Linked DNA regions of Homo sapiens: all the other regions are linked to region 3. The links come from fine-mapping of genetic effects on gene expression. A gene starts in region 3. Each other region holds a variant in brackets. All regions are shown on one strand. Distances are between the middles of the regions.

The links.
Region 1: its variant is fine-mapped to the expression of SLC7A5 in blood mononuclear cells (TOPMed, PIP above 0.99).
Region 2: its variant is fine-mapped to the expression of SLC7A5 in whole blood (INTERVAL, PIP above 0.99).

The regions. Positions count from the first base shown.
Region 1 is chr16:87,891,718-87,899,892 of GRCh38, forward strand. It overlaps CA5A (carbonic anhydrase 5A), which reads right to left. Exons shown (of 7, transcript NM_001739.2): 6 at 82-237. Among named protein-coding and RNA genes, the nearest start is that of SLC7A5, 26 kb to the left of the region's middle. RefSeq lists an enhancer at 6,118-6,817. The variant A/G (reference allele first, on the strand shown) is at 4,707.
Region 2 is chr16:87,778,850-87,787,012 of GRCh38, forward strand. It overlaps LOC102724467 (a long non-coding RNA gene), which reads right to left and starts at 299. Exons shown (of 4, transcript NR_120309.1): 1 at 1-299. RefSeq lists enhancers at 1-17, 18-883, 234-333, 664-753, 884-1,749 and 2 more. The variant C/G (reference allele first, on the strand shown) is at 3,848.
Region 3 is chr16:87,865,845-87,874,019 of GRCh38, forward strand. It overlaps SLC7A5 (solute carrier family 7 member 5), which reads right to left and starts at 3,663. Exons shown (of 10, transcript NM_003486.7): 1 at 3,041-3,663. The coding sequence starts at 3,578. RefSeq lists enhancers at 562-611, 4,217-4,976, 4,421-5,620, 4,977-5,738, a silencer at 3,627-3,976 and a cis regulatory region at 5,700-6,026.

The DNA.
Region 1 (8,175 bases), 26 kb after region 3:
ATGCAGCATCTTAGTGACGCTGCCAAGCAAGAGGGACGCCTTCCATGAAGCGCCATCGTGCCAGTTACGGGCACGGCTCACCTGGCTTGGGGCCACTTCAACGGGCTCCTTCTGGATGATCCAGGTGACCGACTCGGTCAGCGGCGGGGTGGTGAGCGAGCCCGCGTAGGTCCAGTAATCCCAGCAGGTGGGCAGCAGAGTGGAGGGGTCGAAGGGGCGCATGGCCGCCCGCGCGTCCTGAGAGACCGAGAAGCACAGGACGTGTCAGTCCTCAGGGGAGACTAGGAGCTTCCATCTTGTCTCAGCACGTGAGGCCTTCATGGTGCTTGGAAGGAAGTGCTTTCCCCCAGATAAGGCCATGAGGCCACTGCTGTCACACTTGCAAGCAGTGATGAGAAAATGTGACCCTTCTATACAGAGCAAGGATTCCTGCCAACTTACATTGGTGGGAATTACGTTACATTACACCAGCTTACGTTGGTGCTCACATTTTTCCTTTTGAAGTCATTTCTTGGGGCGCAGTAGCTCACCCCTGTAATCTCAGCACTTTGGGAGGCCGAGGCGGGTGCATCACTTGAGGTCAGGAGTTCGAGACCAGCCTGGTCAACGTGGTGAAACCCTGTCTCTACTAAAAATACAAAAATTATCCAGATGTGGTGGTGGGCGCCTGTAGTCCCAGCTACTCAGGAGGCTGAGGCAGGAGAATCGCTTGAGCCCAGGAGGCAGAGGTTGCAGTGAGCCGAGATCATGCCACTGCACTCCAGCCTGGGCAACAGAGTGAGACTCTGTCTCAAATAATAATAATAATAATAATAATAATAATAATAATAATAATAATAAATTAATTAATAATAAAAATAAAAATAAAGCCATTTCTTTTAGCATACCTTGGCTGCAAAAAATATTACTTTTTATTGTGATAAAATATACATAACATAAAATTTACCATCTTAACCTTTTTTTTTTTTTTTTCGAGATGGAGTTTTGCTCTTGTTGCCCAGGCTGGAGTGCAATGGTGTGATCTTGGCTCACCGCAACCTCTGCCTCCCAGGTTCAAGCGATTCTCCTGCCTCAGCCTCCAGCGCCTGCCACCACGCCCAGCTAATTTTTGTATTTTTAGTAGAGACAGGGTCTCACCATGTTAGCCAGGCTGGTCTTGAACTCCTGACCTCGGATGATCCACCCGCCTTGGCCTCCCAAAGTGCTGGGGTGAGCCACTGTGCCCGGCCTATGGGCTCCTTTTTAAGGAGGGAGTCATGGTGGCCAAGAAGGATGTCCACATGCCTAAGCACCCGGAGATGGCAGACAAGAATGTGCCCAACCTTCATGTCACGAAGGCCATGCAGTCTCTCAAGCCCCGAGGCTGCCTGAAGGAACAGTTTGCCTAGAGACATTTCTTTCTTTCTTCCTTTCTTTCTTTCTTTCTTTCTTTTTTTTTTCAGACAGAGTCTCCAGGCTGGAGTGCAGTGGTGCGATCTCAGCTCACTGCAGCCTCTGCTTCCTGGGTTCCAGCGATCCTCCTGCCTCAGCCTCCCTAGTAGCTGGGACTACATCTTCACGCCATCGCGACCAGCTAATTTTTTATATTTTTAGTAGAGACGGGGTTTCACCATATTAGTCAGGATGGTCTCGATCTCCTGACCTCGTGATCTGCCCACCTCGGCCTCCCAAAGTGTTGGGATTACAGGCGTGAGCCACCACGCCCGGCTTGCCTGGAGACATTTCTACTGCTACCTTACCAATGAGGGCATCCAGTATCTCCGTGATTACCTTCATCTGTCCCTGGAAACTGTGCCTGCCACCCTATGCTGCAGCCGTCCAGGGACTGGCAGGCCTCGGCCTAAAGGTCTGGAGGGTGGGCGACCTGCAAGACTCACAAGAGGGGAAGCTGACAGACATACCTACAGACGGAGTGCTGTGCCCCTGGTGCCGACAAGATAGCCGAGGCTCGGGCTGGGTCAGCAACCGAATTCCAGTTTAAAGGCAGATTTGGTCGTGGACATGGCCAGCTACCTCAGTAAAATCAGAGAGGATTATTTTGCATTGAATACACTCACAGCCAAAAAACAAAAAGAGTCAGGGTCTTACTTTGTCACCCAGGCAGGAGTGCAATGATGCCATCATAGCTCACTGCAGGCTCTAATTCCTGGGCTCAAGCGATCCCCCCGCCTCAGTTTCCCAAGTAGCTAGGACACCACACCAGGGTTTAAAATTAATTGTTTGTAGCCAGGGGGTCTTGCCATCTTGCCCAAGCTGTTCTCCAACTCCTGGGCTCAAGCGATCCTCCTGCCTTGGCTTCTCAAAATATTGGGATTACAGGCATAAGCCACTGTGCCCAGCCAGCTCTTTTGGATATATACCCAGAAGTGTGTGATTGCTGAATCATAGGGTAGTTCTATTTATAACTTTTTATTTTTTTTATTTTTTTTGAGGCAGAGTCTCACTCTGTCTTCCAGGCTGGAGTGCCGTGGCATGATCTCAGCTCACGGTGGTTGGGCCTGGCCGCAACACAGCCCTCATCAGCGTCCCATGCCAACCAAGCATAGCTCTGCACCTGCCCCTGGCCAGCACTGTGGGACAAGAGTCCAGTCCAAAGTGACAGAGTCCCTGTCTGCAAGGAAGATGGCCTCCCTGCTCAGCCACATCACATCACCTTGACTTTGCTGGGCCCTGGCCTTCCAAGGTGGAAGCTGGCAACCCAGATGCCTTGGGCTTGTCTCCTAACATCAAGCAGTGAGGGTCAGGGTCAAGAGAGGTGGCTGAGCTACCAGAAGGAAGCCCGGGAGTGTCCACACTGGCAGACACATGCATCAGTTCTATGCACGCATGTTCACGTTTATAATTATCCAGTTAATTAAAAAAAAAAAAACAGCATTATAGGCTGGGCACAGTGGCTCATGCCTGTAATCGCAGCATTTTGGGAGGCCAAGGCAGGCAGATCACCTGAAGTCAGGAGTTCAAGACCAGCCTGACCAACATGGCGAAACCCCATCTCTACTAAAAATACAAAAATTAGCCAGGCATGGTGGCAGGTGCCTGTCATCGCAGCTGCTCGGGAGACTGAGACACAGGAACTGCTTTGGCACAGGATGCAGAGGTTGCAGTGAGCCGAGATGGCACCATTGCACTCCAGCCTGGGCAACAGAGAGAGAGACTCTGTCTCAAACAACAGCAGCAGCAGCAAAACCCACAGCATTATTGTGATAGAATTCACATACCATGCAACTCTCCCATCTAAAGTGTACAGCCTGGTTGGGCGCAATGGATCATGTCTGTAATCCCAGCACTTTGGGAGGCCGATGTGGGAGGACTGCTTGAGGCCAGGAGTTTGAGACCAGCCTAAGCAACATAACGAGACCCTGACTCTACAAAAAATACAAAAACTAGCCAGGTGCAGTGGTGCACGCCTGTGGTCCCAGGTAGTTGGGAGGCTGAGGTGGGAGGATGGCTTGAGCCCCGGAGGTTGAGGCTGCAGTGAGCTGTGATCATACCACTGCACTCTAGCCTCGGTGACGGAGTGAGATCCTTTCTTAAAATAAGTAAATAGGCTGGGCACGGTGGCTCACGCCTGTAATCCCAGCACTTTGGGAGGCCGAGGCGGATGGATCACCTGAGGTCAGGAGTTCGAGACCAGCCTGACCAACATGGCGAAACCATGTCTCTACTAAAAATACAAAATTAGCCAGGCGTGGTGGCGCATGCCTGTAATCCCAGCTACTCGGGAGGCTGAGGCAGGAGAATCACTTAAACCCGGGAGGCAGAGGTTGCAGTGAGCTGAGCTCATGCCATTGCACTCCAGCCTGGGCAACAAGAGTGAAACTCCATCTCAAAAAGAAAACAAAAAACAAAAAACAAAAAAAGTAAATAAAAATTGAAGGGTACAGTTCTATGGTTTTGGGTATATTCACAGTTGTGCAGCCATCCCAAGTCAATTTTAGAACTTCCACCTCAAGGGGGAAGCTTGGTACTTTTTAGCTATGGTCCCCACCCCCGCCCTGCTGCTTCTGTCTCTGTGGGTTTCATAGGAACTGAGTCATGTAACATGTGGAACATTTGTGTCTTGTGTCTCTCACTCAGCACGGCGCTTTTGAGGCTCACCCACACCGCAGCATGAGTTAGAGCTGTGTCCTTTCTGATTGCCAAGTAATATCTCACTGCATGGTCTAGCTGGGTTGACATCCCATTGCACGCTCTAGCTGGGCTGTGAAGGAGCAGACTGCTTGTGCATGTGGGTAACAGGCGGGTGTGCAGTGAGACATCAGTCTGGTGCACGTGGGTAACAGGCGGGTGTGCAGTGAGACGTCCGTCTCCTCCTGCCTGCCACACATCCCCAGGGCACAGATGTGCCAGTCACTTTCTGAGCAACTACTTCAAATCTTCAGAACAACCCTTTGAGAAGTATTTCTAGTTTACTGATGAAGATAGACAGACAGATATAAAAAACTTGCCCAAAGCCACGTTGCCAGTCAGGGCCACTGAGGCCTGGCCCGTTCCGAGGTGCGGGCTCTTCCTTCCCTCCCCAAGGCTGCAGGAATCAGTCAGGGGAGTGGCAGGCTCCAGCCATGCCACTGCGGGTAGGTTTCTTGCCAATTAAGCTTTCTGCCTTGGGCTGAGAAGAGGATGCCTGTGTGTTGCCTCATCGTCCCCAGGAGTTCCTGTCCTGTCTCTAAGATGCATGAGGGCTGGAGCAGCCATGTGGTTACAGA[A/G]AACTGCTCCCCCTCAGGGCCCCCAAAGCAAATCAGGGCCCTTCCTTTATGCATGTGGTGATCCTCAGGCAGCTAGAATGGGACACCGGTGAGCACACCAATGAGGCTGAAGACCATCACATCCATTATCTGAGCACGGATGGCCCAGCTACCTGTGGAAAGCACCACAAGCCTTTGCTGGTGGAAGTGGGTTGGTGACTTGTTCCACTTTTCTTTTATTTATTTATTGTTTTTGAGACAGAGTTTCACTCTTGTTGCTCAGGCTGGAGTGCAATGGCACGATCTCGGCTCACCACAACCTCCACCGCCCAGGTTCAAGCGATTCTCCTGCCTTAGCCTCCCTAGTAGCTGGGATTACACGCATGCGCCATCACGCCTGGCTACTTTTCTGTTTTTAATAGAGATGGGGTTTCTCTATGTTGGTCAGGCTCGTCTCAAACTCCTGACCTCAGGTGATCCGCCCGCCTCAGCCTCCCACAGTGCTGGGATTATAGGCGTGAGCCACGCTCTGTTCCTGGTTTTGTCTTCTTTCTCTTAAACAGGACCCCACATTTTATGAGCGTCAAGCCCCACCCAGCCTAACTCCGCCCTTGCTTTGTCCTCTTAGAGTCTCAGTTTCCCCAGGTGTACGACAGGCAGTGTGGTGGCGGTAATGGGCTTCCATCAGTGCCTGCCACGTGGGCGTGGGGCTCAGTAGGTGCTGCCGCTGCTGCTGCCAAAGCTAGAAGAGCCCCCACAGGGCACAGAGCCGTTCCCTGGATCCCCTGGACCTGGTGGGCTGTTTCCACCTCCACAAGGCAGCCAATTCCCCGGTAGCTCTGACTGTTGCGAAGGCAGGGAGGAGGGGGGACCCCAGCAGCCTGAGGAGCTTGCGGCTTGTCCAGGCATGGAGGGTGGGGACCCTCTGTGGGCAGTTTTTGCCAAAACTTCTGGCTATGGTGAGAGGGTCAAAGGCGAAGCCTTGAGGTCTCCATTCTGGAATTGTCTGCCCGGGGTCACCAGGACCACACTGGGGCTGTGCCTGCGTGCTGGGAGCTGAGTGCATAGTGACAGGTCGGCACTGGTAGGGGCCTGTGCAGATGGGATGGTGCTGGGGGTGGGGGTGGGGGTCCAGGCTTCCAGGCAGCGCCTGATGTGGTTTTGGTTACAGACACTGCCTGTGTTTCCCTCTAAGCTGCTGAAAAGCTCAGAAATGTGCAGCAGGGGCTGGAGCTCAGCCTGGGTTCTGACTGCATGCGGGAGGTGGGCGCCAGGATGACTGGGACTTCAGGCTGCGTGGACCCACTTCCTGGGTTTAAAAACGGGCTCTTCACCTGCCAGCTGTGTGCTCGGGCAAGGCCTTCTCTGCCTCTCTGAGCTTTGGTTTTCCTGTGTGTGCAAGACAGATGAATCACAGGCCCTGCCCCGTGGAGTGATTGGAAGATTCAGTGTGATAATTTATGTGGAGGGCTGTCGCTTCTTTGAACCCCTTCCGCCGAGGTGTAGGGTGATGTCCCCTTGCCCTGAGCCTGGGCAGGTGCTCCTGACGGGAGTGGTAAACAGGATGCCGCAGGAGCAGTGCTTTGTGACTCTGGAAGCCAGGGCAGAAAAGGACATCGTGTCCATCTGGCTCTTTCTGGAAATGCACCCTTGGAGCCCTGAGCACTGCATAGAAGCCAGCTGGGTCCCCAGGGAGTGACCGTGGCAGGCATTCCTGGAGGGTCTCTGCCGAGTCAGTCCCACAGCAGGGCCCGGACCAGCCTGGAACCAGGAGAGATGATGGGGACTACGTGACTCTGGTCTTTCCTGCCCTAATTCAGGACAACTTGTTCCTTAACTGGAGGAAACCAGGAAAGCAGCCCAGAAGCTGCAGGTGAGCCCGTCCCTGGGTGAGAACTGCTGAGTCCGCGGGGGAGTGGCAGAGCTGGGATTTGAAGCCAAGGCCATCTGCCCTTGAGCCTGAGGCCACCATGGCCCTGTCCTGCCCTGCACTGCCCACCAATCAGGAATTAGATTCAACCACACTTCTAGCATTTTCCATCACAAGGCCATCATTCTAAAATTTCATGGGCTCCCAGAAGGTAATAGCTCTCTCTGGGAATCACCTGACAGAAAGCACCCGCAGCAACAAAAAGCGATTTTAACCTTAGTGATTGGGCTGGTGGATTTTCGTTTCGTGACGGGCAGCAGCAGCCTGTGCCTTCCACAGCAGACTTGAGTGTGTGAGTGTTGGCCACAGCTGGGCCTTAAACTCAACTGCACATTTCACCAAGAACCAGACATGCTCCTTATTCCATTACATGGTGAGAATGCTGCTCTAGTGTGGATTTTTTTTTTTTTTTTTTTTTTGGAGACGGATTCTCGAGCTGTCACCCAGACTGGAGTGCAGTGGCACGATCTCGGCTCACTGCAACCTCCGTCTCCTGGGTTCAAGCGATTCTCCTGCCTCAGCCTCCTGAGTAGCTGGGATTACAGGAGTGTGCCACGATACCCAGCTAATTTTTGTATTTTTAGTAGAGACGGGGTTTTGCCATGTTGGCCAGGCTGGTCTTGAACTCCTGACCTCAGGTGATCTATTCACCTCAGTCTCCCTAAGTGCTGGGGTTACATGTGTGAGCCACCATACCTGGGCTACTGTGGATGTTTAATATCTCCATTTCACAGGCGAGGAAGCTGAGGCTCAGAGGTGCGCAGCTCAGGAGTGGTGGATCTGGGCTCTGAACCCAGGAGTCCAACTGTGGGGCTCTCTGATACACTGTGCTATGGGAGAAGCTCCCAGAAGTCCTAGGCTAGGAGCCTCTAGGCGAGAGAGTTGTTCAAGTCTCTTCCCATTCCCTGGCCCATGAAGCACAGACTCTTGCTCCCAAGGCTGGGCCTTTTACCTCCTAAGGTCTTTTTTTTTTTTTTTTTTTTTTTTTTGAGATGAGTCTCGCTGTGTCACTCGGCCTGGAGTGTAGTGGCACAATCTGAGCTCACTGCAACCTCCACCGCCCAGATTCAAGCAATTCTCCTGCCTCAGCCTCCTGAGTAGCTGGGATTACAGGCACCCGCCACCACGCCTGGCTAATTTTTGTATTTTTAGTAGAGATGAGGTTTTATCATGTTGGCCAGGCTGGTTTTGAACACCTGACCTCAAGTGATAAGCCCGCCTTGGCCTCCCAAAGTGCTAGGATTACAGGCGTGAGCCACCGCACCCAGCCTCTTAAGGTCTTTTAATTTCTCAAAGGTCTAACTCGGCCAGGTGCGGTGGTTCACGCCGGTAATCCCAGCAATTTGGGAGGCCAAGGTGGGCAGATCACTTGAGGTCAGGAGTTTGACACCAGCCTGGCCAACATGGTGAAATCCCGTCTCTACTAAAAATACAAAAATTAGCCAGGCATGGTGGTGGGCGCCGGTACTTCCAGCTACTCATGAGGTTGAGGCAGGAGAATCACTTGAACCTGGAAGGCGGAGGTTGCAGTGAGCCGAGGTCGCACCATTGCACTCCAGC
Region 2 (8,163 bases), 87 kb before region 3:
CTCCCTGTCAGCGTTTCATTCCCTCTTCATATCACATCACTTGGGTCTGTGGTCCAGGTGCGCTGGGGGCAGCGCAGGCCGGGTTCAGGAGAGCTCGGCTCAGCAGCAGCCGATGGAGCTTTCCTGGGGGCTCCTACCTGGCCGCCAGCTCCAGAAGCCAAGCCAGGGGCTCTTCGAGACATGGTCCCACCAGAGGAGAGACCGAGCCTCGGAGAAATGAACGTCCTAGGCCATGGGACTCGGACCCCTCACCCCACCCGCCACACCTGCCAACTTCCCGGCCTGCAGGGTGGCAGGAAGCCTGAGGCATTATTCAGCTTCCTTAGGGCCCGTTGGCTGATGCAACACAGCTCAGAAGTTGAGTCCAAGCACCAAGCCCGCAATGTCTGCGTCGGCCGCCAGGGGTCACTCCTCCCGCGCAGAAGGCGGCCTTGGAGCCTCGCAACCGCAGTATGCGAAGGTTGCATCACCCTCGCGGGGTCTAAGAGGAAGGATGGGGACCAGCCCGCAGGCGGGCCTGAGCCTCCTGGCAAAGCCCTTTGTCAACGTCAACAGAAGCATCTGGCGTCCTTTCTGGTCGCGGACGTCAGAGCTGGCTGCTCCGGCACTCAGCCGGGTGGTTGGTCCCCAGGCAGCCGCTGGGGCCCTGCCACCAGGTCTCACCTGGCCGAGAGGGAGTCAGGATGCCCTCTGAAGCAATGTCCCGAAATCCCAAATTCACCCCTACCCCCAGGTCAATAATGTACAAGAAGCTACATTCCTTTTTTTTTTTTTTTTTTTGAGAGGGAGTCTCACTCTTGTTGCCCAGGCTGGAATGCAATGCCACGACCTCGGCTCACCGCAACCTCTGCTTCCCAAGTTCAAGCAATTCTCCTGCCTCAGCCTCCCAAGTAGCTGGGATTACAGGCATGCGCCACCACACCCTGCTAATTTTGTATTTTTAGTACAGACAGGGTTTCTTTTTTCTTTTTTTTTTTTTTTTTGGAGACGCAGTTTCACTCTTGTTGCCCAGGCTGGAGTGCAATGGCATGATCTTGGCTCACCACAACCTCTGCCTCCTGGGTTCGAGTGATTCTCCTGCCTCAGCCTCCCGAGTAGCTGGGACTACAGGCATGCACCACCATATCTGGCTGATTTTTTTGTATTTTTAGTAGAGATGGGGTTTCTCCACGTTGGTCAGGCTAGCCTCAAACTCCCGACCTCAGGTGATCCACCCGCCTCGGCCTCCCAAAGTGTTGGGATTACAGGCGTGAGCCACCGTGCCCGGCCTGAGACAGGGTTTCTCCATGTTGGCCAGGCTGGTCTCAAACTCCAGACCTCAGGTGATCCGCCTGCCTTGGCCTCCCAAAGCATTGGGATTACAGGCATGAACCACCACGCCTGGCCGTTGAAGCTACATTCTTGTTCCAAAGTTTTAAGCAGGGACTTTGGTGCAGACATAGCAATCTTTTGGGAGGATTAATGGAGGGAAGAAATAGTACCTGGTATTCCCACTGCTCTCACCCACAGCCCCGGGATCCACCTCCTCTTTACCGCCCGGGCCACAGAGAGCACACGTGGGCTCCTTTCCATTTGCTGGTCCGACCCAGCAGTGGTCACCGCTGGAGCCCTGAGACCCCACCAAGGTGTTCTGCCCAGCTCTCCTCATCCACAGAGGACAGAGGGGGTCAGGGGAAATAATATGAATCTGACGCTGGGGACATTTGCAACCCGCAGAGTCACCGCCACCTGGTGTCTCTTCAGTGTCTATGGAGACCAGTAAATGACTGTTTGCTCCACTGTTCTGAAAACAAATGAGTGCAGAAACAATCTTCTTTTGCTTCCTGCCTGGTGAGAGACATGATTGCCAAGAGCTCAGGCCAGGAGCCGAGGGTTTGCTTTTCATCCTAATCTTCAAGGTGGTCATCTTCAAAGGATGTGAGAGGGCAAGAGCTGAGCTCTGCTTCCTGCAAAGAGAACCACACATGTCCCTCAGTGGAGCACCCAGTCTAGCTTTCCTGTGTCTGCCTTCCTCCCTCCACCCACGCCTTCCTCCCTCTGCCCACAAGTCCTTCACCCTCTCCCCACAGGCTCAGCCTTCGGGAGCTATTTCCTGTGGCTTTTTATTCACTTCCTTTTTTTTTTTTTTTTTTTTTGAGATGGAGTCTCACTCTGTCGCCCAGGCTGGAGTGCAGTGGCACGATCTTGGCTCACTGCAACTTCTGTCTCTCAGATTCAAGCGATTCTCCTGCCTCATCCTCCTGAGTAGCTGGGATTACAGGCCTGAACTACCATGCCTGGCTAATTTTTATATTTTTAGTAGAGACGGGGTTTCACCATGTTGGTCAGGCTAGTCTTGAACTCCTGACCTCAAGTGATCCACCCGCCTCAGCCCCCCAAACTGCTGAGATTACAGGTGTGAGCCACCGCGCCCAGCCTCATTTACTTGTTTTGATAATTTTTTTCTTTTGGGATAATCGTAGCTTTGCAGGACAGCTAAGATAGTTCCTGAAGTTCTCCAGTGATCATCTTCCATACAATGGTACATTGGTCAAAACTAAGCAACCAACATTGGTATATTGCCATTAACTAAACCCCAGACTTGCTTTGGATTTCCCTGGGTCTTTTCCTACTTACATCCTTTTCCTGTTCCCATCCAGGATCCTACGCAGGAGACAACATTGCATTTAGATGTGGTTCACTCTTCAATGCAGAGATTTTAGACCCTAACCCATCTCACCCTGTGTAGCTCCAGGTGTGTGGCCTCCTGCTGCTGGGAGGAAACGCACCGAGTCGTGGTGCTCAGTGGCACCCTAAATGCCCTGGGAGCCTGTGAACCCCAAAAATCTGAGACAGGTCTCAATCAATGAAGAAAGCTTATTTTGCCAGGTCAAAGACAGGCACTGTGACACAGCTGAGTCAGGAGAATAGATCCTGGAAGAAGGGAACCGAGAGACTGCCTAGGACTAAATCAAATGTAAGGGCTTGGTACAGTGGCTCACGCCTGTAATCCCAGAACTCTGGGAGGCCAGGCGGGCAGATCACCTGAGGTCAGGAGTTCAAGACCAGCCTGGACAACATGGTGAAACCCCGTCACTACTAAAAATACAAAAATTAGCTGGGTGTAGTGGTGGGTGCCTGTAATGCCAGCAACTCAGGAGGCTGAGGCAGGAGAATCACTTGAACCTGGGAGGCGGAGGTTGCAGTGAGCTGAGAACGTGCCACTGCACACCAGCCTGGATGACAGGGAGAGACTCCATCTCAAAAATAAATAAATAAATAAAATAGAAACACTTCAGCTATGACAGGAAATATCCTCTTTACTTACATAGGGCATCTGTGTAAATGAAGCGTAAATGATTTCATTGACAAATGAGTAAGTGACTTTGTAACTTTACTTCATCCTCTTCATTTACACAGGGCGTACACCAAGTAAATGACTTTGTAACTTCACTTTAGCCTCTTCATTCACAAAGGGCATACACCAAGCAACCAATGGAAACCTCTAGAGGGTATTTAAATCCCAGAAAATTCTGTAACCAGTTTCTTGAGCCCCTATGCTGGGGCCCACTCCTACCTTGTGGAATGTACTTTCTCGTTTTCTTTTTTTTTTTTTTTTTTGAGGTGGAGTCTCGCTCTGTCGCCCAGGCTGGAGTGCAATGGCGTGATCTCAGCTCACTGCAAGCTCCGCCTCCCAGGTTCACGCCATTCTCCTGCCTCAGCCTCCCGAGTAGCTGGGACTATAGGTGCCCGCCACAACGCCTGGCTAATTTTTTGTATTTTTTAGTAGAGACGAGGTTTTACCGTGTTGGCCAGGATGGTCTTGATCTCCTGACCTTGTGATCCGCCCACCTCGGCCTCCCAAAAT[C/G]CTGGGATCACAGGTGTGAGCCACCGCGCCCGGCCTTGTACTTTCGTTTTCAATAACTCTCTGCTTTTGCTGCCTCACTCTTTTTGCTTTGTTTGTGCATTTTGTGCAATTATTTGTTGGACAACACCAAGATGCCAAGAACCTGGACACCGTCCACCGGTAACACAGCCTCAGGGGGTCCTGAGGACATGTACCCAAGGTGGCTGGGGCACGGTTTGGTTTTACACGTTTTAGGGAGACATGGAGACATCAATCAATATATGTAAGATGTACATTGGTTCCGTACAAAGAGGCAGGACAACTCAAGCAGGGAGGGGGGCTTCCAGGTGGCAGGTCGGGGAGAGACAAACCGTTGCATTCTTTTGAAATTTCTGATTAGCCTTTCCAAAGGACGCCATCAGATATGTATGTATCTCAGTGAGCAGAGGTGTGACTGAATAGAATGGGAGGCAGTTTTGCCTTAAGCAGCTCCCAGATTGACTTTTCCCTTTAGCTTAGTGATTTGAGGGCCACAAGATTTCCAAGATTTATTTTCCTTTCACAAGCTGAAGAAGTGGGAGCTGCCTTTGGTGCTCTCCCCATGGACCTGACTCTGGCCTTCCCCTCCCTTTACCCCCATGGGTCCCTTGTCTCTGCAGTTGATTTGCTCACGAGATTCTAAATATCAGCCGTTTACTACTTAGGATAAACCGCAGGTCTTGCTGCAGTATCGCCCGTTGCTGATATGTGCAGATGCCAAGTTCTCTGGATGGGAACCATCTAGAGCCTTGGTAGTCAAAGGCCGGGCGCAGTGGCTCACCCCTGTAATCCCAGCACTTTGGGAAGTCAAGGCAGGCGGATTACTTGAGGTCAGGAGTTTGAGACCAGCCTGGACAACATGGTGAAACCCTGTCTCTCCCAGAAATACAAAAATTTGCTGGGCATGGTGGTGCGTGCCTGTAATCCCAGCTACTCGGGAGGCTGAGGCCGGAGAATCACTTGAACCCAGGAAGGGAGGTTGCAGTGAGCCGAGATTACGCTACTGCACTCCAGCCTGGGCAACAGAGCGAGACTCCGTCACAGAAAAAAAAAGAGTCTTGGTAGTCATGGGGATTGAAGCCTCTTTGGGAGTCCCATCCCTTCGCTCCTTCTGTGCCTGTGACCCCTCACTGTGAAGTGCACACTCCCAGAGTGCCCAGGCCAGGCTGGTTCAGTGCCACCCACCCTCCAGCCTCTCCCAACCCCCCACAGCCAAAGCACCGGCACAGAGGTCACAGGAGACTCAGGCCACGTGGCATCCAGATGCCGACAAAGTGAGTTCTTTACCCAGAAAATGAAAGGGAGACCTTCCCGAGGCGCTTGCCCATCCAACTGTGCAAGGATGACGGGGTTCCACTCAAGCCAACCGAAAACATCCACAGATAAGAATACACAAAATAAAGCCAACCCACAACAAACTCCCAGGACTCAGAATCCAACACGCCTCCCATCGTCGTGTTGTGACCAAGCGAGTTACAGAGAAACGCCACACTTTGAGACAAATTAAAGAGTCTTTTATTAGCCAGCGACCAAGAGGCAGCTAATGCTCAAAATTCTCTCAGCCCTGAGGAAGGGACTAGTTTTGTTTTTATACCGTGGTCTAAACAGCGGAGGCAGGATTTTAGCTGAAGCAATTTTTACAGAAGCAGAACTGGCAAAAAGTTAAAAATTTAATTGGTTACATGGCCGGGCGCGGTGGCTTAAGCCTGTAATCCCAGCACTTTGGGAGGCCGAGGCGGGTGGATCATGAGGTCAGGAGATTGAGACCATCCTGGCTAACGTGATGAAACCCCGTCTCTACTAAAAATACAAAAAATTAGCCGGGCGTGGTGGCGGGCGCCTGTAGTCCCAGCTACTCGGGAGGCTGAGGCAGGAGAATGGCTTGAACCCGGGAGGCAGAGCTTGCAGTGAGCCAAGATCGCGCCACTGCACTCCAGCCTGGGCGACAGAGCGAGACTCCATCTCAAAAAAAAAAAATTAATTGGTTACAAAAAATAAACAGTTCCAGGTGCAGGGGCTTAAACTATCACAAAGAGATAAATGCAGGGGCTTCGGGTGCCATCCACCGAGCGCGTCCCGAGGAGCTGCTGGTGCAGCTTGCCTCTGTATCTTATCAGTAGGTGCATTTCTGGACGTGCTTTGAGTCAGTTTACACTAGTTATGCCTTAAGGGAGGGAGATGAAAGGGGACTGCAGGTGAAGAAACTAAAATGGAGTCTGTCCGGCTCTCTCTCTGCTAGGAGAGAGTAGGCTATCACCGCTGAGCCACAGGGGACGGCAAGTTGTCCATTTTTCCTGCTCAGGGGCCGCTGACCTCACAGCAGCCGGAATGTGGGTGGTGGCATTCCAAGGGCAATCCACATTTCACCGTGATTAGAAAACGAGGCCAACACGGCTCAGGCTCTGAGCATGGCTTCTCTGCACTGGTGACTGCAAGAATATCCCTCATGCCTTTGAAGGGCCATGGAGAAGTTGGCATAGCTCTCCTGGAGTTCCCGAATCTCTCGCCCAAAGTAACTTGGCCCTTCGAGGCAGAATTGGAGAAACAGAACATCCTCACACCCAAGTCCCATTTTCTCTGTGGTGACCTGCAAACCACACTGCACCTTCTGGCTGCGACACCCTCAGATTTCAGGCCAGAACCTTGGAAGAAGTAGGGCCACTCCCTGGTTTCTGATGGGGCCAGAGTGCTGGGTTGGGGACGTTGCCTCCAGAGCTGTCTCTGGGGGCCCTGACGCTGCCGTGTGCTGGGAGTGAAGGAGCTCCTACCTCACGGGCCAAACCCACTCCCGCTCTCTCCCAGGCTCCAGGGATAAAACTGGAGACCACTATGTCTTGCTTTCCGTGTTCTTTCTCCCTGCCATGGCTGGGTGCAGAAGCTGAAGCCGCCTTTGCAAAATTATGACTGCAGCAGTGAAAGAGATCTAATGTAACCGACATCATCTTACTTCTTTTTGGTGGGTGGGGGGGGATGGAGTTTCACTCTTGTTGCCCAGGCAGGAGTACAATGGCACAATCTCGGCTCACTACAACCTCCACCTCCCAGATTCAAGCGATTCTCCTGCCTCAGCCTCCCGAGTAGCTGGAATTACAGGCATGTGCCACCACGCCTGGCTAATTTTGTATTTTTAGTGGAGATGGGGTTTCTCCATGTTGGTCAGGCTGGTCTTGAACTCCCAACCTTAGGTGATCTGCCTGCCTCGGCCTCCCAAAGTGCTGGGATTACAGGCATGAGCCAGTGCGCCCGGCCTTAACCCCTATTTTAAATGTGCATAATTTCTACATTGTCAAATCACAGAGTCATTGCATATGATCACATCTCTCATTTTGTCCTAGTCCTTCAAACAGCTATGCACGTGTATCTCCCACTCCCAGCAGTCCTTCTCTTGATATCTTGTCACTTTGGTTGTCTGAAACCCAGCCTCTAGGAGGTTCCTTAAAAGGCATATAGGGACCAGGTACAGTGGCTCATGCCTGTAATCCCAGCACTTTGAGAGGCCAAGGTGGGTGGGTCACCTGAGGTCAGGAGTTCAAAACCAGCCTGGCCAACATGGCAAAAACCCCGTCTCTACTAAAAATAAAAAAGTTAGCCGGGCGCGGTGGCAGGCATCTGTAATCCCAGGTACTCTAAGGCTGAGGCATGAGAATTCCTTGAGTCCGGGAGACAGAGGTTGCAGTGAGCCGAGATCATGCCATTGCACTCCAGCCTGGGGGAGACAAAGTAGAACTCTGTCTCAAAAAAAAAAAAAAAAAAAGGAGGCTGGATACTGTGGCTCACACCTGTAATTGCAGCACTTTGGGAGGCCAAGGCGGGCAAATCACCTGAAGTCAGAAGTTCAAAACCAGCCTGGCCAGCACAGTGAAACTTTGTCTCTAGTAAAAATACAAAAATTAGCTAGGTGTGGTGGCGCACACCCCTAGTCCCAACTACTCAGGAGGCTGAGGCAGGAGAATCAATTGAACCCAGGAGGCCGAGGTTGCAGTGAGCCGACATTGAGCCACTGTATTCCAGCCTGGGCGACACAGTGTGACTCCATCTCAAAAAAAAAAAAAAAAAAATACAAAGGCTTATGGGAATAATGAGTTCTTGCACGTCGATGTTTTGTCTATGCCCTTTGTACTTGAAGATCGGTTTTGCTTGGTGCGTCTTGAAAGGAGGCCCTGAGCAGTGATTTCTGAGAGTTCACAGAGGATGTAGACCCCAGCCTCTTTAAACATAACCAGAGTCCCCTTGCACTCACCCACTAATGCAGAGAAAACCACTCTGTCAGTGATAATCCTATTACATGTGAATGTAAA
Region 3 (8,175 bases):
GGTGCGATGGCTCATGCCTGTAATCCCAGCAAATTGGGAGGCTGAGGCACATGCCTGTAATCTAAGCTCCGGAGGTTGAGGCAGGAGAATCGTTTAAACCCAGGAAGCAGAGGTTGCAGTGAGCAACGAGCCTGGGCAACAGACACAGACTCTGTCTCAAAACAAAATCAAAAACAAAAAGCAAAAAACCACATACCCTTTTCCCATTTGCACAAAGCTGGGAAACCCCAAATGCCCTCCACAGGGTTCTATGGGGGGGCGGGGGTGCGGTGAGCACACTTGTTCCTGCCGACACAGGGAAGTCTTCTTAGCAGCTAAAGAGGGCAGCCTCTGCGTACTGCCTGGGAACATGGCAAAACCATTTTAGGCTTTAAAAAAAAGGTGGAGAACAAGTTGTACATTATGATCTTTTAAATAAATAGGCCAGCGATATATTTGTAACAGAAGCAGCTCCGGAAGCATACACTGTCAGCCGCAGAAACTCTGGGGGTCGGGGGTGGTAAAGGAGGAGAAATGTGTCACCCAGGCAGGAGCTCAGTGGCACCATGCTTGGTTCAAGCAGTTCTCCTGCCTCAGCCTCCGAGTAGCTGGGACTACAGGTGTGCGCCATGACGCCCAGCTGATTTTTGCTTTTTTTTTGAGATGGAGTTTCGCCTTGTTGCCCAGGCTGGAGTGCAGTGGTGCGATCTCAGCTCACTGCAACCTCCACCTCCTGGGTTCTAGTGATTCTCCTGCCTCAGCCTCCCGAGTAGCTGGGATTACAGGCATCTGCCACCACACCCAGCTAATTTTTTGTATTTTTAGTAGAGATGGGGTTTCACCATGTTGGCCAGGCTGGTCTCGAACTCCTGACTTCAGGTGATCCGCCTGCCTCGGCCTCCCAAGTGCTGGGATTACAGGTGTGAGCCACAGTGCCTGGCTGGTTTGAATTTTTAAATGATGATGAATTCATGTATGACTGATGTGATTTTTATTAGAAAGAGAAAACTAGGCAGCGCCCCATCCTACGTCTCCTTCCTGGTGGCCAATGAAGCATTTCCCACGACTCACTCCTGGCACCAGCAGGAAGTCAGAGACTCAGCACCCAGGGGCTGCTTTTTTTTTTTTGAGACAGGCTTGCTCTGTCACCCAGACTGGAGTGCAGTGGCGGGATCTCAACTCACTGCAACCTCCACATCCCGGAGCATGCCTCAGACTCATAAGCAGCTGGGATTACAGGCGTGAGCCACTCTGCCCGGCTAATTTTTGTATTTTTAGTAGAGATGGGGTTTCACCATGTTGGTCAGGCTGGTCTCGAACTCCTGACCTCGGTAGATCCGCCCGTCTCGGCCTCCCAAAGTGCTGGGATTATAGGCGTGGGCCATCACACCCAGCCAACCAGGGGTTCATTTTTTAAAGATAAGAGTGCAGGCTGCGTAAGCTACTATCCATGTCGTTACATACCGGGCCGACATGTACCTAGGCGGGAGGGAGACTGAACCAGTGAAATTCTAATGACAAAAAAAGAAATCAGAGTCATCCCCTACATTCACATCTCCAACGCCCAGCTGGAAGGCACAGGCTCTCCCCACTGCTGTCCTGCTACGATTTTTCCCGGCTTTGACCTGCATGGTGGTGCGGCTGCTCGACTCAGAGCCTCAGAGAAACCACACAGAGCCCTGCTGAGTCTTGCCCTCGGGGCATTCTCACATTTATGAAGAAATGCCTCCCCCTCCCCCTCCCCCCCAAAGTACGGTGTGGCAGAAAACAGCGCCAACAGGTCCTGCCAGTCAGAAGCCACTCCCCTGATTTCATGGCTCAAGACCCCAACTATAAATTAGCCCTTCCCACCTTGAATGTGTACACACACTATTGAGATGCAGGCCGATCCATGCCATGGGATGAATCTGAGAATTGCCAAGACCCACCTTCCCACGCCACCCAACCAAATCATGTGGCATCTGCTACAAGTGATTTTCCCCCTGAAATCCCACAAGAAAACTATTTTGAGGCCGGGCACGGTGGCTCACGCCTGTAATCCCAGCACTTTGGGAGGCCGAGGCGGGCGGATCACAAGGTCAGGAGATCGAGACCATCCTGGCTAACACGGTGAAACGCCGTCTCTACTAAAAATACAAAAAAAATTACCCGGGCGTAGTGGCGGGCACCTGTAGTCCCAGCTACTCGGGAGGCTGAGCCAGGAGAATGGCATGAACCTGGGAGGCGGGCTTGCGGTGAGCCGAGATCGTGCCACTGTACTCCAGCCTGGGCGACTGAGCGGGACTCAGTGTCAAAAAAAAAAAAAAAAAAGAAAGAAAAAGAAAAAGAAAACTATTTTGAAAAGCAGTTATCTCTGGCCTGGTGAAGAACACACCAGCACCATGCCCACCAAAACAGGAGCCCCATGGCTGTTTCCCAGAGAAACCTGGGACCCGCACGTCCATTCACTGCAACACAGACTGAATCTGCAGCCAAGCTCCGCTCTCTCACTACTGGGAACCCTCAGGGGGGATCCCTTAGCCTAAATCAGCACCAGTCACTACCCGCACACGATGTTATTACTACTGTTTTCTTATGAGTCAGCCCGTGTCACTGATTCCTGACGAGCTGGTGTGGAGAGCAGAAATGAATGATTTTTTTTTTAACTGCAATTTCCTTCTCACCAACCAGTCAGCAATCGGAGCTCTAACAGTAAACCGATTGCTCAGTTACTCCACGTGGGTGCCACGCAAGAGGCTGGGAGTATTGCTCAGCGGGGCCAACGGGAGGGTGGCACTTGCCTAAACCGCTTAAGTGGGGGAATGGAATGCCCACCGAAGGGCAGGGCAGGGACCCTGCTGTCCCGTCACTGAAGATATTCCCAGCCTGTGGGGAGAAGTGTAAAAGAATGAATGAAAGAAACGCACGTGGTTTCTGGGACCAATGACCTTAGCCTAGAACTGCCGGGATGGTCCAGGAACGTAAAGATGTAGAGATGTGGGAGCCAGGGGCGTAGTGATGCAAGGATGCAGGGACCCAGAGACTACGACCTCCCAACCCCCGGCCCGCGCCCCGTACTCACGCACGCAGAGGCAGGCCACGAGCTTGGCTGCCTCCTCGGGCACCGGGCAGGTGGGGAAGAGCGGCTTGAGCAGGTAGGTGGCGAAGACCAGGGCCACGATGTACTGCGATGAAGGCCGGATGATGAGCAGCTCGATCCAGAGCTTGAGGAAGGCGGGCAGCGAGCCGTAGACCTCCAGCATGTAGGCGTAGTCGCCGCCCGATTTGGAGATGGTGGTGCCGAGCTCCGCGTAGCAGAGCGCGCCCACGATGGAGAAGACGCCGCACGCGGCCCACACCACCAGCGCCAGCCCCGGCGAGCCTGCCTCCTTGAGCACGCCCGTGGGCGTCACGAAGATGCCCGAGCCGATAATGGTCCCCACGATGATGGCCACGCCGTTGAGCAGCGTGATGTTCCGCTGCAGGGTCACGCCCTCGCCCTCGCCTGCCGGCGCCGAGCCGTCCGCGCTCTTGGCGGCCAGCATCTTCTCCCGCGCCTCTTCCTTCTCCTCGGCCGCCGGCGCCGCTAGCGCGCGCCGCTTCGGGCCCGCACCCGCCATGCTCTGCGCACCGGCCGGGCCTGGGACACCCGGGAGCCGCGGCCCAGCGAGCAGTGTGCGCGCCGCCCGCCGCCCGCAGCTGCGTCAGGAACCCCGCCCGCGCCGCCTTTTAGGCCCCGGCCCGCCGGCCCCGCCCACCGTCCGCGGCTCCTCCCCGCCCCGTGGCCCGGCCCCGTCCCTCAGCCCCGCCCCCTCGGCCCAGCTCGGAGCACGTGCGTCGTCCGGCCCAGCCTGGCGGGCTATTCCCAGGCCCGCGTGGTCCTCGAAGGCCCCAGTCCTCCTGCGCCATGGAGACCCCGGCCTCGCGACCTCCCCCCTCCCGGCGCCCGCGTCATCCCAGCCCGTCCTCCCGGATGCGCCTGGGCGGGGCCTGGCAGTCAGGGCGCGCCCCTTCACCCACTGGCCCGCAGCCTCTCGTCAAGCCTGGGAGCGGGCAGTGCACCAGGGCTGGCCTGAGGCCAAGGATGGAGTTTGGGGTACCCCCCGAAGGGAACCTAGGCTCCTGTCCCGGATGGGCCGAGGGGATGGAACCGCCCCCACAACCAGCTCCTGGGGCACGGGGGAGGGATGAGAGGATGACCTGAGGGGAAGCTCCTGCAGCCTCCTTCCAGCCTGGGGGCTGCATCAGTGGGGCTGGTGAGCCGCGAACTGGGACGAGGGAAGAACCGAACCGAGGCCACCCAGTAATTCCCATTGTATCCCAAAAGAATCTTGCCAAAGACGGCGATCCGGTGCCCGTAGCTTTGAGAAGCAGTAATAACACAGGCTTTGGGAAGCCAGCAATCTGCCTGAGCTCAATTTAATCAACAGAACCGGGGGTTCGCTGGGAGCCATAAGACCCCCACCCCCAAATCTACCTGGGGAATTCAAAGGCAGGCTTCAGTGTGAAGGGGCTTTAAAGCTTGTTATTCCTAGGGAATGCGAGAGGCATCTTAGCTAAAAAGGGTTGAGAGGTAATTTCAGTTAGAGGCGAGAGCAGGATGCCAAGGCTCCTAGGCCTGGAAATGGGAAGGAATATAAATACTGCCCCGAGATTGACCAGACTGGTGAGCGGCCAAAGACCTGTTCAAAGGGTGTGTGTGGGTCAGGGAGGAAGCTCCTCAGTATCACCCCACCCCGGGGTTCCTTGGCGTGTGTGCAAACGAGTCCTTGGAAGCTCACAGCAGGCATGTGGGGAGGCCTTTGTTCTGGGTGAGCGTTCAGCCTCCCAGGGCAAACACGCAAACACCGGTTGCAGAGCTGGGTGTTCACAGCAAGACAGTCTGCTGGGCAGATGCCTCTGGAATCCACAGAATTCTGAACAATAGCCGTGGTGGAGGGGGGTCAGAATCCCTGTCGTGCTGGGACCTCTAGCTGCAGCCAGGAATGTCCAGGCCCCACCCCAGGGAGGGGGCGGCTGAGGAATGCCAGGGCTTGTCATTCTGGACCTTGCTCGCCCCCCGGTATGTCGGGCATTCCTCTGCGGTGATAAAACCGAGCGAAATCTCAGCAGCCCAGGCAGCCACAGGCGGGGGAGTGCGGAGGTCACACAGATACTAACTTGTAATCTGCCGTCCACATTGCTGGCTGTGGAAGGTGCAGAGACCCCTCCATCTGCCCTATTCTTCCCGCTGTGCCTGCAGAGGGAAGGAGACAGTACCACCATGGCTGGGCAAACTCACCGAGTGCTCACTGAGTCCTCCCCTAGACAGCTTCTTATGCAATAGGGTAGGTGCCAGTTAGAGCCATTTTGCAAATAAGGAAGCTGAGGCTTGGTAGGGTTACCTCGCTTGTCCGGCCAGCAAGTAGCCTGGGAGCTGTCCTTTTGACTCTGAACTTATATGGTACTTTTAATCATTCCACCATTCTTCTTTGAGTAACAAGAAAGGCAACCAACAGTCATACCCCAAAGCATAAAATTACAACCATGATAAGCCAAGGACATGACAGGGTGAGCCAGCGACAGCGACAGGGACCAGGCAGGTCCAGATAGACTTTTCTGAGGTGGTACCTGGAGCTGAGAGCCCAGGGTGAGTGAGAATTAATAAGGGAGGTGCAGGGGTCCCCACCGGCACAGAGGGGGCCCTGCACAGTTGGTGCAAGTCATGGTTGGTGCCCCCAGAGCCAGGCTCCTGGCAAGTGCTGGAGCCCTTAAGCAGGAAGGGTGACAACAGCCATGAGCGTGTTCAAGTCACACAGCTATTACGCCACCTCTGTCGGTTTTTACTGGGTTTTCATATGACAACATTCTAGATTTATCCAGCAAATCTACTCCTCTCAGACGTCCCTGATGCCGGCCCTGAAACGCCTTCGCCTGAAAGCTATGACTCTAGAATCTTAGCAAAGAGTGCCATCTGTTGGAAAGATTCGGCAGCGTTTTGATTTTTACAGAGGCAGGACAATGGTCTTTTCAGCTCCAGTCAGTAATTTATCACATGTTGTGTATTTTCAGAGGTTAAAAAAAAGAAAGAAAGAAAAGAAAAAAAAGTTGTGGCACTCTCGCTTGAGCTGGTTGGGAGAATACTTTCTTTTCTTTTTTTTTTTTTTGAAACGGAGTCTCACTCTGTCACCCAGGCTGGAGTGCAGTGGCACAGTCTCAACTCACTGCAACCTCCGCCTCCCGGGTTCAAGCAATTCTCCTGCCTCAGCCTCCGGAGTAGCTGGGATTACAGGCACCCGCCACCATGCTCGGCTAATTTTTTATTTTTTGTATTTTTAGTAGAATTGGGGTTAGCCAGGATGGTCCCAATCTCCTGATCTCGTGATCCGCCCGCCTCAGCCTCCCAAAGTGCTGGGATTACAGGCGTGAGCCACCACGCCCAGCGCCCTGCAGGTCCTTTTTAAGGCTGTTTGCAACATAAATGAGACGAGGCATCTTCTGCCCCCCTCAGAGCGCCAGCGTGGAGTTGAGCAGGCCACCCTCTCTCACAAGGCGAACCCGTCATTATTTTGTCATTTGGAGCAACTGCAGGGGAGCAGCAAGGCCACAGGGCGAGGGGAGAGAACCCGGTGGATAATCCTTTGTTTTCTAATTATGAGATGAGTCTCGCAGTGCAGGGATTGTGGTTTTCATCTCAGCAAAATATAGGAGTGAGGTCCGGAGCGGATCCTTGCTCTTCCTTTCAACTCGTTCTTTTTCCCAGGAAAACGACTTACCTGGTAAACCCTGTAAACCAAAAATAAAATTCTAAGGGCCACCCCAGACATCTAAACAGACTTCCTCCTCAGCCAGGGCTCTTAACATTTAACCTGAAAGACTGGTTTGGGCCAGGAAGAGAATCGGGGGTTGGACGGCCTCTTTAGACCTCTCCAGCACTAACACCAACACATACTTGAAGTCTATCAGACTTAAAGATTAACATTTTACAGCCTGTTCTCTTTGAAGCCTCCTAGCTAAAAGCTTCATCTGCATGATACAGCTTTCATCTCCACAGCCTCACCACAACCCAAACATTCCTTCCTTCCTTTCTTTCTTTCTTTCTTTCTTTCTTTCTTTCTTTCTTTCTTTCTTTCTTTCTTCCTTCCTTCCTTCCTTCCTTCCTTCCTTCCTTCCTTCCTTCCTTCCTTTCTTTCTCTCTCTCTCTCTCTCTCTCTCTCTTTCTCTCTTTCTCTCTTTCTTTCTTTCTTGTCTCACTTATCGCCCAGGCTAGAGTGTGGTGGCGCGATCTCGGCTCACTGCAAGCTCCGCCTCCTGGGTTCAAGTGATTCTCCTGCCTCAGCCTCCAGAGTAGCTGGGACTACAGGCGCCTGCCACCACGCCCGGCTAATTTTTTTGTATTTTTAGTACAAACGGGGTTTCACCGTGTTAGTCAGGATGGTCTCCATCTCCTGACCTCGTGATCCGCCCGCCTTGGCCTCCCAGAGTGCTGGGATTACAGGTGTGAGCCACTGTGCCCGGCCTCCAAACATTGCTTTCTACTGATCCCAGGTCTTTTGTGTTTTTCTTTTTTTTTTTGAGACAGAGTCTCACTGTCGCCCTGGCTGGAGTGCAATGGCACGATCTTGGCTCACTGCAACCTCTGCCTCCCGGGATCAAGTGATTCTCCTGCCTCAGCCTCCCGAGTAGCTGGGATTACAGGCACCTGCCACCACACCTGGCTAATTTTTGTATTTTTAGTAGAGGCTGGGTTCCACCAGGTTGACCACGCTGGTCTCGAACTCCTGGTGATCTGCCCACCTCGGCCTCCCAAAGTGCTGGGATTACAGGCGTGAGCCACCATGCTCGGCAACAATCCCAGGTCTTTAGACAACAAACTCAAACAATTGTCAACCAGAAAATGTTTAAATTGGTTGGGCGCGGTGGCTCACACTTGTAATCCCAGCGATTTGGGAACTTTGGGAGGCCGAGGCGGGGGGATCTCGAGGTCATGAGTTAAAGACCAGCCTGGCCAACATGGTGAAACCCCATCTCTACTAAAAATATAAACATTGGCCGAGTGCGGTGGCTCATGCCTGTAATCCCAGCACTTTGGGAGGCCGAAGCAGGCAGATCACTTGAGGTCAGGAGTTTAAGACCAGCCTGGCCAACATGGTGAAACCCCGTCTCTACCAAAAATACAAAAAAATTAGCTGGGCGTGGTGGTGGGCGCCTGTAGTCCCAGCTACTCGGGAGGCTGAG